Regions from separate parts of the Homo sapiens genome. Here regions 2 and 3 are each linked to region 1. The links come from fine-mapping of genetic effects on gene expression. A gene starts in region 1. Each other region holds a variant in brackets. All regions are shown on one strand. Distances are between the middles of the regions. Region 1 holds the start of KIF13A (kinesin family member 13A). Region 2 overlaps KIF13A (kinesin family member 13A). Region 3 has its middle 34 kb from the start of NHLRC1.

Region 1 (4,239 bases):
AATAAGGTGGGGCTGAAGTATTTGTCCTTCAGTGTACACAGGGGACTGGTTCCAGGAACATCCAAAACCATGCATACTCAAGTCCCACAGTCAGCTCTGCAGAACCCACAAATAGGAAAAGTTGGATCTCTCAGTTTTGAACCTGCCAAATACTGTCTTTTCTTTTTTCTCCCTTTTTTTTTTTGAGACAGGGTCTTGCTTTGTTGCCTAGGCTGGAGTGCAGTGGTGCGAACATGGCTCACTGCAGCCTCAACCTTCCAGGCTCAAGTGATCCTCCCACCTCAGCCTCTCCAGTAACTAAGACTACAGGCACCTGCCACCATGCCCGGCTATTTTTTAAATTTTTATGTTTGGCAAGATGGGGTTTCTTTACATTGCCCAGGCTGGTCTCGAACTCCTGGCCTCAAGTGATCCTCCCGCCTCGGCCTCCCAAAGTGTTGGGATTACAGGCGTAAGGCACTGTGCCAGAGCACGAATACTGTATTTTCAATCAGATTTTGGTTGAAAAAAAGCCACGTGTAAGTGGACTCGTGCAGTTCAAACCCGTGTTGTTCGAGGGTCAAGCGTAGCATCACCTCGGTTGGAGGCGGACGGACCCCTCTCCTAGCACCTGCCGTACACTGTCTAGCATAATAAGTCTCCACGCCCTCTCTTCCACCTTAGCGTGTGCCTCTGCATCATGCTATTCATGTTTCTGTGTGTCCTCAACAGCACCCTGCACACAGTAAAACCTCAATGCATCTTCCAATAAGTGGATTTCTAGATTTAAGCAAAATCGAAAGATTCCTGGATCTAAACTCTGGATTTTTGACTTCTGTACGCTTCAAAATGCCTGGCACTCGGTGAGCGCCCCTTAAGCACTTGTTGAACCAAACAGAATAAATCGGATTCGCCCAGTTCCGCCCTGGCAGCGAGGTCTGCATTTGGCAGGATGACAGAATCCATTGCTATTAAATTCTTATGTAAGAGTTAATGGCCCTCCCAGCCCACTTGACATCCCTCCCGAGACAAGAGAGGCCGGGAAAGGAAGGGAGAGCACTATTTACAAACATACACTGTTTCGGTGGTGGATTCACAGATTCATTTCTAGTCTCGGTTCACCACAGAGATCTTAAAATACCGCTGCAGGCTCCGTGTGGGACAGAGGGGGCGGCGTGCCGGGACTCGGAGGGGAAGGCCTGCGCACCCAGCGCGGCGAGCCGTGGTCCTTGCTGCCGTCCCGGGGCTCCGGGTGGCAGCGGCCCCAGAAGGCGGCTCGAGCTCACGGCGGTGTCCGGGGGGGGGCCCCGCGGGCGCCGGTGCAGGCTTGGCCTGGGAGGTCCCCTGGGGAAACAATGCGTCCCGCCCCGGACTCCAGCCTCCCCTAAGCGCCGCGCTGCTCGCCGCTCCTCTCACTGCCGTCCCGCCGCTCCAGGGGGCGCCGCGCGTGGCCGTGTCCGGCCTCTCCCGAGCCCCGGCGGGTGACGGGCGCGGAACATGGCGGCGCGGGGCCCCGGGCAGCCGCGAGGGGCCGCGGCGCTGCGGTCTCGGCTGGGGCGGCGCGGCTAGAGCTGCGCCTGGGCCCGCCGGCGAGGCCTCCTCCCCGCCCGCCGCCGCCGCCGCCGCCGCCGCGCCCCGCCCCGCGCGCCCGCCCCTCCCCGGGCCGCGGCCGTGCCCCGCGTCGCGCTCCCCCGGGATGGCCCGCGCGCCTCGGCGCTGCCTCTCGGAGCTCACGGCGGAGCGGCGGCGGCCGCGCTCGAGGGGCGCGCGGCTGCAGCGGCGGCGGCGCCGCGCGTGAGGGGCCGCCTAAGGCCGAGCGGGCGCGGCGAGCGGCCGGGCGAGCGCAGCCAACATGTCGGATACCAAGGTAAAAGTTGCCGTCCGGGTCCGGCCCATGAACCGACGAGGTGAGGAGCTTTCCGCTCTTTTTTATTTCTGCTCGGGCTGAGGGCGGGGGCAACTTTAGAAACTGCGGGGCCGGGACGGCGAGAGCGCGGCCGGGGCCGGGGGGCCGGGGCGGAGGCGGCGTCCGCGCTGGCCGTGGTGCCCGGGGCGCCGTCTCCAGGCTCGGCCGCCTCCAGGGACGGAGCCCCGCTCGGCGCGGCTGGCGGGCGGGCGGGCTGGAGGCGCGGATGCTGGACTTTGCAACGTCCCTTTCTCTCTGCTTTCAGAACTGGAACTGAACACCAAGTGCGTGGTGGAGATGGAAGGGAATCAAACGGTCCTGCACCCTCCTCCTTCTAACACCAAACAGGGAGAAAGGTAAAGCGGGTTCCGAGAGGGCGGCTGGGAGGATCCAGCCTCGCGGGGTCCCGCAAGTTTGAGCCAGGAAAATGGGAGTGCTCTTTCCTATTGTTAGGAGGACGGCTTCAAGTTTGTCGCCGGCTCCTGTTTGAAGCTGTTGCAAGTCCAAGTTCCTCTCCTCCCTCGCCCCCCTTCTCCTCCATCTAGAGCGGCGGCAGGCAGGGCACCCTGGCCACAGCACCAGTCAGCTGAGCCCGGGCGGGCTGCGAGGCACCCGGGAGGGAGAGGGCCGGATGGGACCCCATAGGTGATTCGTCCAGCGGCCACATTTTACAGACAGGAAAACTGAGGCCCGAGGCGGGCAGGTGACCAGCCCACGACCTTATTGTTCGTGGAACCCAGTGTCCGTGATTCTTTTCATCACTGCAGGGTTTGTTTCCTTTGGCAGAATTGTTTAGGGACAGTGTGTCTAAAATGGGAGGAAAAAATAAAGCAAAAGTCTTGTACGATGTAGACTCAGGCTGGACTAGTTAGTATCTATTTTAGTTGTTGTTGCTGAGTTGAGATAATGCCTCAATGTAATGCGCGAATTTTGATTTTCAAAGAAACAAAAGTAGGGCCCTGAACTGTATAGACACTGAGGGATGTTTAAAAAGGGGCTGTATTTACTAGATGGCAACATATTTGCATTTGAAAAGTGGTAACTGTTGGATCCTTATTAATTCCGTTCTGTTCCATGCAACAGTATGGGTTAACGCCCCAAAATAATTTGAATATTTGGCATTTTTCTAGTAAGCCTCTGAGAAGAAATCGGTTGGAATTCATTCAATATAATAATGCAGTAGCTTGTAAATATATATATGTGAAAAAACGGGAGAGTTTACAATATTAATTTTCATTGGAAATGAATATGAGTTTGTGTTTCCACGAATCACCTGTTGATCGATGGAATACAATTTAGTGAATTTCCTTCTTCAGAGATTTTCACTGAAGAGAGACTCTGAAGCAGGGTTTGTGACATTATTGCTTAGAGAAGCAATGCCTCCATTCTATAATGTGTGGTGTTCAAGCTCAGTTTTGCCAAATTTGGGGAAAGAAATCATGAGGCGATAAGATTGGGGATTCTTTGCTTTTCGTGTTGAGCATAGCAGTTTTTATCCAGTTTGCAAACATTCTGCTACCTTTAGCAGATTCTGGTGGTGATATTAAATAGCTAAGCTATATGTAAAATGTTGTGTTTAACACTGAATGTAGTGTTTATTGTACATTGTACTGAATGTTGTCTAGTAATGGATGTATTTTTAGATGCATTTATAGCAGTGTAGATAGTATAGCATATTTCATGGTGATAGTAAGTAAACTCATTGAGTACATTAAATATTTACAGATTAAATTAGATGCCCATATCACCAACGAATGTCCCCTCCCCCCACCCCCCCGCAAACTGCATATTGTTTCGGGAAAAAATTCTGTTGGGTCAGATTCTTGAAAGCAGTCTGGGGGAACAGGTAGAATACTTTTTAGCTCCTGTTGTGTAGCCGTTACTTGTTTTCCTTGCTGGCTTGGCACCTGCTCCTTGTCACTCTTAACCATAAGCAGTGCGACTGTTAGCTACTGTTTAATGACATGAAGTGTTGTCATTTGTGAAGAGAAACAGATTTGATTTTGTGGGATTTGGTACAATCTATAACTGTGGACAGTTGGTTCCAAATGCTAAGTAATCAGTTGATCATTTTTCGGGCTGAACCACGTTAGTTACTAATCAGGATCTTTTAGGTAAAGATTTGAAGGGTGATTTTGGGATCTATTCATCTGCTTACTTACGATAGTCCCTTATCTGGAGTTATAAAAATAGCATTGAAATATGGGTACTCTCGTGTTTTGTCCTTCTGACGGATCTAATTCTTTGAATAGCAGATGAGCTTTCTGTGGGATTCTGTCTTGAGTACCGGTCATTTCATTTACAGACAAACTGAGTAGTCAACAAAACAGTGCTCCTTGTACATTAGGATTACT
Region 2 (4,239 bases), 33 kb after region 1:
TTGTTGAGTCTAATAACAGAGCAGTAGTTAAAGGCACAGACTCTGGAGCCAGATTGAAAGTAAATCCTAGCCTTTTCACTTATTACTGTGTGATCCTGGATGAGTTACCTGTCCTCTCCATGCCTCAACTTCCTCATTTGTAAATGAGGATGATAATACCTGCATCTTACGGATGTAAGGTTAAATGAGCTACCACTTGATGAGTCCTTAGAACGGAGCCTGGCACTGTGAACCTAAGTCCGTTGCTTTGCTTGCTGTTCACACTCAAAATGCTTGACTGTAGATTTAAAGCAATGTTAATAGACTTTTTAAAAATTGTGCTTAAGATCTGGAAAATATGGCAGTCTTTTCAGGAAAACCTGTATACAAGAATAACAGTCACTATTAGTGTCATCATCTTTAAATATAAAAGACAGTGGTTGATGGGATGCATAAATTTGCATGTATTTAGGCAAAAATGTAGATGTGTGAACACAAATTGGCATGAATTACCTGTAGAGGTTAATGCATGGAAACAAACTACACTGAATTGGTGCAGCCTTATCCTGAGACTCTGAAAGGAGTCACAGAAAATAGGAAATTGCCATCTTATAGACTTAGCATACAGTTTCTTTGCTTTAGTAAACCATGACTTTGTCTTCAATATTATCTCATCCAAACAACCAAATCATTAAGATTAGTTGCACTGCTGTTCTTAAATAAGACAAATTTAAACCCAGAAATGGCTACTTTTTGTATTACATCCAATATAGTGAATGCACATTGTCTTATGGGCACAAGAAAATCACTTCTTCAAATATATTTGTGGAAATTATAGGGAAGATTTTACTTATTGTATAGGTAATTTGTTTGGTCAGATATCCAAATTGGTGTGAAGTGGCAAAAGTCTACATGAAGCTTTGCCCTATCAGTTACTCAAGGGAGCACTTCACAAATGAAAGAAGGCAGAGTGGGTGTTGAATTGGTAGAATAGAGTTTGTTATTGTTATTGTTATATTTAAATCAAAACAGGTAGAAACCCAGGTTCTTGGTTCTAGTCCTGGCTTCGCTACTAATAGAAGGATCTGGAGTAACTTTAACACCTGTGGAAACTAGTGTCCGTTTGTACATCAAGGAGATTAGACCAGATCAATTCTCATATTCAGTGATTCTGAATGTAAAGACATGTATAGTAATACTTGTAGGCCAGGTGCCGTGGCTCACATCTGTAATCTCAGCACTTTGGGAGGTGGCGGCAGGAGGATCGCTTGAGCCCATGAATTCAAGACCAACCTGGGCACCAGCATTTTTTGTAGAGAGATATTCCATCTCTACAAAAAAAGTTTTTTTAAATGAGCCTGGTGTGGTGGCACACACCTGTAATGCCAGTGCTTTAGGAGGCCAAGGTGGAAGGGTTACTTGAGGCCAGGAGTTTGAGACCAGCTTGGACAACATAGCAAGACCCCGTCTCTTAAAAAAATTTTTTTTCTTAATTAGCCAGGTGTGATGCTGTGTGCCTGTGGTCCCAGCTACTCAGGAGGCTAAGGAGGGAGGATCCCTTGAGCCTATGAGTTTGAGGCTACAGTGAGCTATGGTCGCAACACTGCACTCCAGCCTGGTCAAGAAGAGTGAGATCCTGTCTCTAACAACAATATAAACAATAACAAAAAATCCTTGTAAAAATGCATGTAATAGACAATTTAGTTTTGGGTTGTGAAAATGTCTTATAAAGGAAGATATAATATTGAAAAGAATGTAAAATCAGGTTATTAATATGAAAACTAAGAAAAATTTTTCCAGAGAAGCCTAATATTATATTTTAAATTATGCTGTGTATTATACTTAAAATGTAACACTGGTAGCTTATTTAGTCAGCTGTTATTTATTGAGCAGCTAGTCTAAGGGATGAGGGGATTTGTGAAAACCTTCAATCACCTACTCCCTAAAAGGGGGAAGATGTGGTCCTTGAGCTATATGAGTTTATTAGATGTTAGAAAAATGCTGATCTGATTTTTTTTTTTTTTTTTTTTGAGATGGAGTCTCGCTCTGTTGCCCAGGCTGGAGTGCAGTGGTGCCACCTTGGCTCATTGCAAGCAAGCC[C/T]GCCTCCCAGGTTCACGCCATTCTCCTGCCTCAGCCTTCGGAGTAGCTGGGACTACAGGTGCCCGCCACCACACCTGGCTAATTTTTTTGGTATTTTTAGCAGGGACAGGGTTTCACCGTGATAGCCAGGATGGTCTCCATCTCCTGACCTCGTGATCTGCCTGCCTCGGCCTCCCAAAGTGCTGGGATTACAGGTGTGAGCCACCGCACCCAACCGATCGGATTGTTTTAAATCTGTTTCGAAGAAAAAAAAATTTTTTTTGAGGAATGTGAGCAAAATTTTTTATTTGTTCATTTCTTGCATTTGAAGTACTCTTCAGTGACATCCTTGACCTGAGATTCTTTGCCATAGTCCTACAGCACAACTGCACAATTGCAACCAGCCACTTTACAGAGTTTTTCCTTTGTCAGTTTTACAGAAGCCTACCTATTCCCCTAGTCTCCTGTCGTCATCAGCCTTAATTAGGTTGATTTGGTATTCAGCGCAAAGGGCCTGCACCAACTTGATATACACAGGCTCATCGTAGTTGGGTGCAAACACACAAAGATGGGCTCGGTGCTTGTCTAAAGTTGCCAGCTTTGTGAATTCCACGTGCTAGGCCATCCTCATGTAAAGCAGTATTAACATCCATGACACCAGCAGCAGCAGTGCCTTCTTCGGCCATGCCGGTGGTTTACTGGTGATAGGGAATCTTCAGCGCACCCAAGCCTCTGCCTCTGAACTTGGTGGAGGCAGAGAAAGAACCCAAGGAATTTCTGTAATTTCCATTACATGACATCTGGGGCTTTAAAGATTTTTTTTTTCCCCTGCTTTTCTTCCTGGTTAAGAGAGGAGAAATAATAAAAAATCTCCTTTCTTCCCTTTTACTGTCTAAGAGTAATCATTCCTAAAAGTTTGGAGTGTATTCTTTGAGAAAGAGAGAATATGGGTGTGTGTTCAGGTACCCGTGTATATGTATGTATGCATATGTTTTGCATAAATAATATCATCTATATGAACTGTTCTCTAACCTGCTTTTTTAACTTAACAGAATAATGCCTTCCTTTCCATGTTAATAGATGGGTGTCTACCTCGTTCTTTTTAATTGCTATATTATATTATATGGATGAATGATAATTTCTTTGCTTAATCCCCTAATGATGGACATTTAGAGTGTTTCCAATTTTTCACTGTAAACAGTGCTCCAGAAAGCATCATTAATATATTCCTGTTATACCCCTGTTAACCATCTCTCCCCTCCGGTCCTCTCTTCTTCTCCTCTTCCTCTCTTCCCCTCTTCGCTTCGCTTCTCTTTTTTTTTTTTTGGAGACAGTCTTGCTCTGTCGCCCAGGCTGGAGTGCAGTGGCGCTATCTCGGCTCACTGCAAGCTCTGCCTCCCGGGTTCGCGCCACTCTCCTGCCTCAGCCTCCTGAGTAGCTGGGGCTACAGGCGCCCACCACCACACCTGGCTAATTTTTTGTATTTTTAGTAGAGACAGTGTTTCACCGTGTTAGCCAGGATGGTCTCAATCTCCTGACCTCGTGATCTGCCTGCCTCAGCCTCCCAAAGTGCTGGGATTACAGGCATGAGCCACCACGCCCGGCTTTTCTTTTCTTACAGAGTCTCTCCCTGTCACCCAGACTGGAGTGCAGTGAGTGGTGTGGTCATAGCTCACTGTAGCCTCAAACTCCTGGGCTCAAGGGATCCTCCGACCTCAGCCTCCTGAGTAGCTAAGACCACAGATGCGAGCACACTACTAAGCCTTGCTAATTTTTAAATTTTTTGTAGAGGCAGAATCTTGCCATGTTGCCCAGCCTGGTCTCAAACTCCTGGCCTCAAGCGATCCCCCAACCCCAGCCACCCGCAGTGTTGGGTTTACAGGCATGAGCCACCACACCTGGCCAATTATTTTCTTAATATAAATTATATTTTCTTTTTTTTTTTTTTTTTGAGACGGAGTCTCGCTCTGTCACCCAGGCTGGAGTGCAGTGGCGCTATCTCGGCTCATGGCAAGCTCTGCCTTCCGGGTTCATGCCATCTTCCTGCCTCAGCCTCCCGAGTAGCTGGGACTACAGAAGCCTGCCACCATACCTGGCTAATTTTTTTGTATTTTTAGTAGAGACGGGGTTTCACCATGTTAACCAGCATGGTCTCCATCTCCTGACCTCATGATCTGCCCA
Region 3 (4,239 bases), 100 kb before region 1:
ACATATGCAGTAAGGGGAACAAAACAATATGGAGTAACTCAAGCTAAGGGCCCATGTGTACATTAGGAGGACTGGCTGGAGCTACCAGAAATTCATGCCTTATGCAAATGAGACACCCAGCCCTCATCAGTTTCTTATAAAAGCTTTAACATTCAACTGTAAAAACACCAACCCTCTTTCAGGTCCCCTCTCCATGGCAGAGAGTTTTCTTCTTTTGCTCATTAAACTCATGCTCCAACTTCACCCTTGGTGTCTGCGCTCCTTAATTTTCTTGGTCGTGGTGTATCCGGAATTTATTCCTTGCAGTGGGTTCTTGGTCTCACCAGCTTCAAGAATGAAGCCGTGGACCTTCGCAGAGAGTGTTACAGCTCTTAAAGATGGTGTGTCCAGAGTTTCTTCCTTCCAGTGGGTTGGTGGTCTCGCTGACTTCAAGAATGAAGCCGTGGACCTTCGCGGCAAGTGTTAACAGCTCTTAAAGGTAGTGCAGACCCAAAGAGTGAGCAGCAGCAAGATTTATTGTGAAGAGCAGAAAAACAAAGCTTCCACAGCATAGAAGGGTACCCGAGTAGGTTGCCGTGGCTGGCTGGAGTGGCCAGCTTTTAGTCCCTTATTTGGTCCCACCCATGTCCTGCTTATTGGTCCATTTTACAGAGTGCTGATTGGTCCATTTTACAGAGTGCAGACTGGTCCATTTTACAGAGTGCTGATTGGTGCGTTTACAATCCTTTAGCTACACACAGAGCACTGACTGGTGTGTTTTTACAGAGTGCTGATTGGTGCGTTTACAATCCTTTAGCTAGACACAGAGCACTGATTGGTGTGTTTTTACAGAGTGCTGATTGGTGCATTTACAATCCTTTAGCTAGACAGAAAAGTTCTCCAAGTCCCCACTCGACCCAGGAAATCTAGCTGGCTTCACCTCTCAGTGGGACAAAGAACTTTGGGTATACCTCAGACAATGAGAGTCTGATACACTGTGATGCTCTGGTGAGACTGGAACAGTGCATATGAGAATAGGCAGCTGGATCTAGACATCCACTCAGTGTGTGCCTTCTCGTGAGTTATTTAAGTCTCCTAAGCCTCACTTTCCTTGTCTGTAGTGTGGAAGCATTAATACCTATTTTTAATTACTGAGAGAATGCTTGTGGCAGATGACTGGCACATATTAATCACTCAATAAATAGTAATTATTATTTTTATAACTACCCACACTCATTTTCATTAAACATACATTACATAACAAAGGTCGAGTGTGAATAAAATGGGATTCATTTATCACAACAATTGATTTACTGCATAGAACAAACACTGGAATCCCAGAGTCAGAAGGGTGAACAGCCATGAGGACCACAGGGCAGGGCACCAAAATCACCTGCTACAGCCACCACTGCAGGGTACACAGAGAGATCTAAAAACTGGTATTAGTCCACCCCCCGGGTACAAAAGAGTTATGGTAGAAGAGGCTGGGGGAAGTGACATACCTTGGAGAAATTTTCAATGTATAGTAAATTTCCAATACCCTCTCCAGAGGAGAAGGCAAAGAGGGTTTTCTTCTTTATCTGAAGCTGAGTAGAATTGGCAGTCAAGAGGAGCACTCAAATAACTCGACAACCTTCCCTGGAGTTAGAGATCACGGGGAATGGTTTCAGAAATACACCTGAGAACACTAAAGGCTGTAGTCACTGATGCTGACAGAAGCAGGAGGAGGGCATTGCACGGGGAGTGAAGTGCACTTCCAACCA[C/A]TCCAGAGCATTCCTAGGAACAAACTAAAGTGTCCTGTAGCAAAACAAGCTGCAGGAAATGAACAATTATTATAGAAGCATGACCAATATACCTTAGCATGCTGAGGCTCTGATAAGTCCTGCAGGAAAGACAACTGTTTAGTTTTATTTAACAGCATTTTTCAAACTTAATTTTTTTTTTCTTTTAAAGAGACAAGGTCTAACTATGTTGCCCAGGCTGGTCTTGAACTCCTTAGCTCAACTGATCCTCCCATGTTGCCTTCCTAAAGTGCTAGGATTACAGGCATGAACCATCACTCCCAGCCCACATTGTTCAAACTTTTAAACCATGGAACCCTGTTTTCCTTGGTAATGCCTATTCATAATCTGTGGGTGTCATGCTTTGTGGAAACACTTTTGAAAACACTGATGTGGGCTTTAGACTTAAAAGGCTCTGGACAACCTGGAAAGAGGCCCAGCTCACCTGAAAACTGGAATCCTTCTCATTACTCAAGGAGATAAACTATTGTTCCCACTGTTCTCTGGTGGGCCTGAACCTTGGGGTCAGTATCATTTCTAGTCAAGGGAAACATTTCCAAAGCTCTTCACTGGGAAAACCCTTATCTTTAGTGATCGCTATCCTCTGTGGCTAGAGGCGGGTTCCTGGCAGGAGGACCTCTCCCTTTCTTCTTTCCATAAATGCTTACAATCATTTCATTGAATGAGCTGGACTTAGCTGGGCTTATAAGCATAAAATAACTTTATTTTTTTTCTTCCATGGCCTCTTCAAATCACTCCATGGTCTAATTCTTCCTTGCCCCAGGATAGGATCATGAGCACATTCCATGGCTTTTCCAGTCATCCCTGGAAAATAAATGAAAAGCCCCTTGTTTGGGTATTAACAAATAAAGTCTGTTTCATAATCATATAATTCCAATCCAGTCCAGGATAAAAATCAGAACTCCAATTAACTCCAAATCTTTATCCAATTAAGATTTCTTCCCTTCTCCACTTTGGACCTGGCCACACTGGCAGGCAGAATTGAGAGTATCATCAGTTTCTTTTCTCTTTTCCCAATCCTCTTGCTTCCCACTTTATAGCTGCTGTTTGTAACCCCTGCAGGGTTGGGTCCTGGGAAGAGGGGATTCAGGGAAAGGGCACAGCTTGACTCAGCTGGATGGCTGGGGTCCTGCTGCTTGTACCCTCCGGATGGCAGATGCCTGCTCTCTTGGTGAGCTTTCTCAGGCTTTCCAGAGAGTTGCCCACTTACTCTTTGATGGAGAAATTATGCCTTTCCTGATTTCTCTTGACCCCTTGGCTTCCTGTGTCCACCCGTCTGCCTGGGCGGCACTGTCCCTCGAGGCAGGTGTCTTGGGAAAAGTCATGTTTAAGCAAATTCCAGGCCAGCTGCCTTCATATCCAGGTCCTAGTAAAATGCAGTGGAAATGCAACGGGCCTTTGAGGCATTCTGTCTTCACTGCGAGGCAGAAGCAGTCCCAGCCACCTCTCACTTGGCAAGAGTGGGACACCAGTCCCCACAAGTGGTTCTCTAGAAACTTCCTTTGAAGTGCATCCTTTTCCCACCTGTGGGAGTGGGATACCCAGCACACTGAAAATTCTCACAAAGATCCTCCCTCTACTACTGATTATCAAAATTCCATCTTGAAAAAGTAGGTGTCTGTGATAGGCTAATGTAGGCATGACTGGTTTCTGATTCTCTCTCACTCTCTCTCTCTTTCTTTCTTTTTTCATTTTGAGATAGGGTCTCGCTCTTTCACTCAGGCTGGAGTGCAGTGGTGTGATATTGGCTCACTGCAGCCTCAACCTCCTAGACTCAGGTAATCCTCCTGCCTCAGTCTCCCATGTAGCTGGGACCACAGGCGCATGCCACCACACTCAGCTAATTTTTGTTTATTTTTTGTAGAGACAGGGTCTCACCATGTTTTCCAGGCTGGTCTCGAACTCCTGGGCTCAAGGGATCCACCCACTTTGGGCTCTCAAAGGGTTGGGATTACAGGTGTGAACCACTGCGCCCAGCCAATTTTTTTTAATAAAAAAATTTTTTTGATGCTAGGTCTTGCTCTGTTGCTTTGTCTGCTGGAGTGCAGTGGTATGATCTTGGCTCACTGCAGCCTCAACCCCCTGACCCTTGCCTCCAACACTGGGCTTAAGTCATTCTCCTACCTCAGCCTCCCAAGTAGCTGGAACCACAGCACGCACCATCATGCCTAGTTAATTGTTTTATTATTTGTAAAGATGGTGTTTCACTATGTTGCCCAGGCTGGACTTGAACTCCTGAGCTCATGCTATCCTCCCACCTCAGCCTCTTAAAGTGCTGGTATTACAGCCATGAGTCACCATACCGGTCTTTTTTTTTTTCCTCTTAACGTGCCCTGCATGGCTAGACCAGCATCTGCCTGTATCATCTGAGAGATACTTGGTACTACTGCATTGTTCTCAGCTTTAGGGAGCTTGCTTGAAATCAAGCCATAGAGAATTTCATTTTAATATCCTGTTA

Evidence for each region. PIP is the estimated chance that this variant, and not a neighbour inherited with it, causes the effect.
Region 2: its variant is fine-mapped to the expression of KIF13A in whole blood (TOPMed, PIP above 0.99). The same link has a PIP of 0.9 or more in blood mononuclear cells.
Region 3: its variant is fine-mapped to the expression of KIF13A in thyroid (GTEx, PIP above 0.99).

The regions. Positions count from the first base shown.
Region 1 is chr6:17,985,056-17,989,294 of GRCh38, reverse strand. It overlaps KIF13A (kinesin family member 13A), which reads left to right and starts at 1,660. Exons shown (of 39, transcript NM_022113.6): 1 at 1,660-1,886; 2 at 2,151-2,241. The coding sequence starts at 1,832. RefSeq lists silencers at 1,085-1,584, 1,955-2,074.
Region 2 is chr6:17,952,074-17,956,312 of GRCh38, reverse strand. All of the region lies in intron 2 of KIF13A (kinesin family member 13A), which reads left to right. It also overlaps the pseudogene RPS12P12. Among named protein-coding and RNA genes, the nearest start is that of KIF13A, 33 kb to the left of the region's middle. The variant C/T (reference allele first, on the strand shown) is at 2,080.
Region 3 is chr6:18,086,236-18,090,474 of GRCh38, reverse strand. No RefSeq gene overlaps it. Among named protein-coding and RNA genes, the nearest start is that of NHLRC1, 34 kb to the left of the region's middle. RefSeq lists an enhancer at 620-1,337. The variant C/A (reference allele first, on the strand shown) is at 1,743.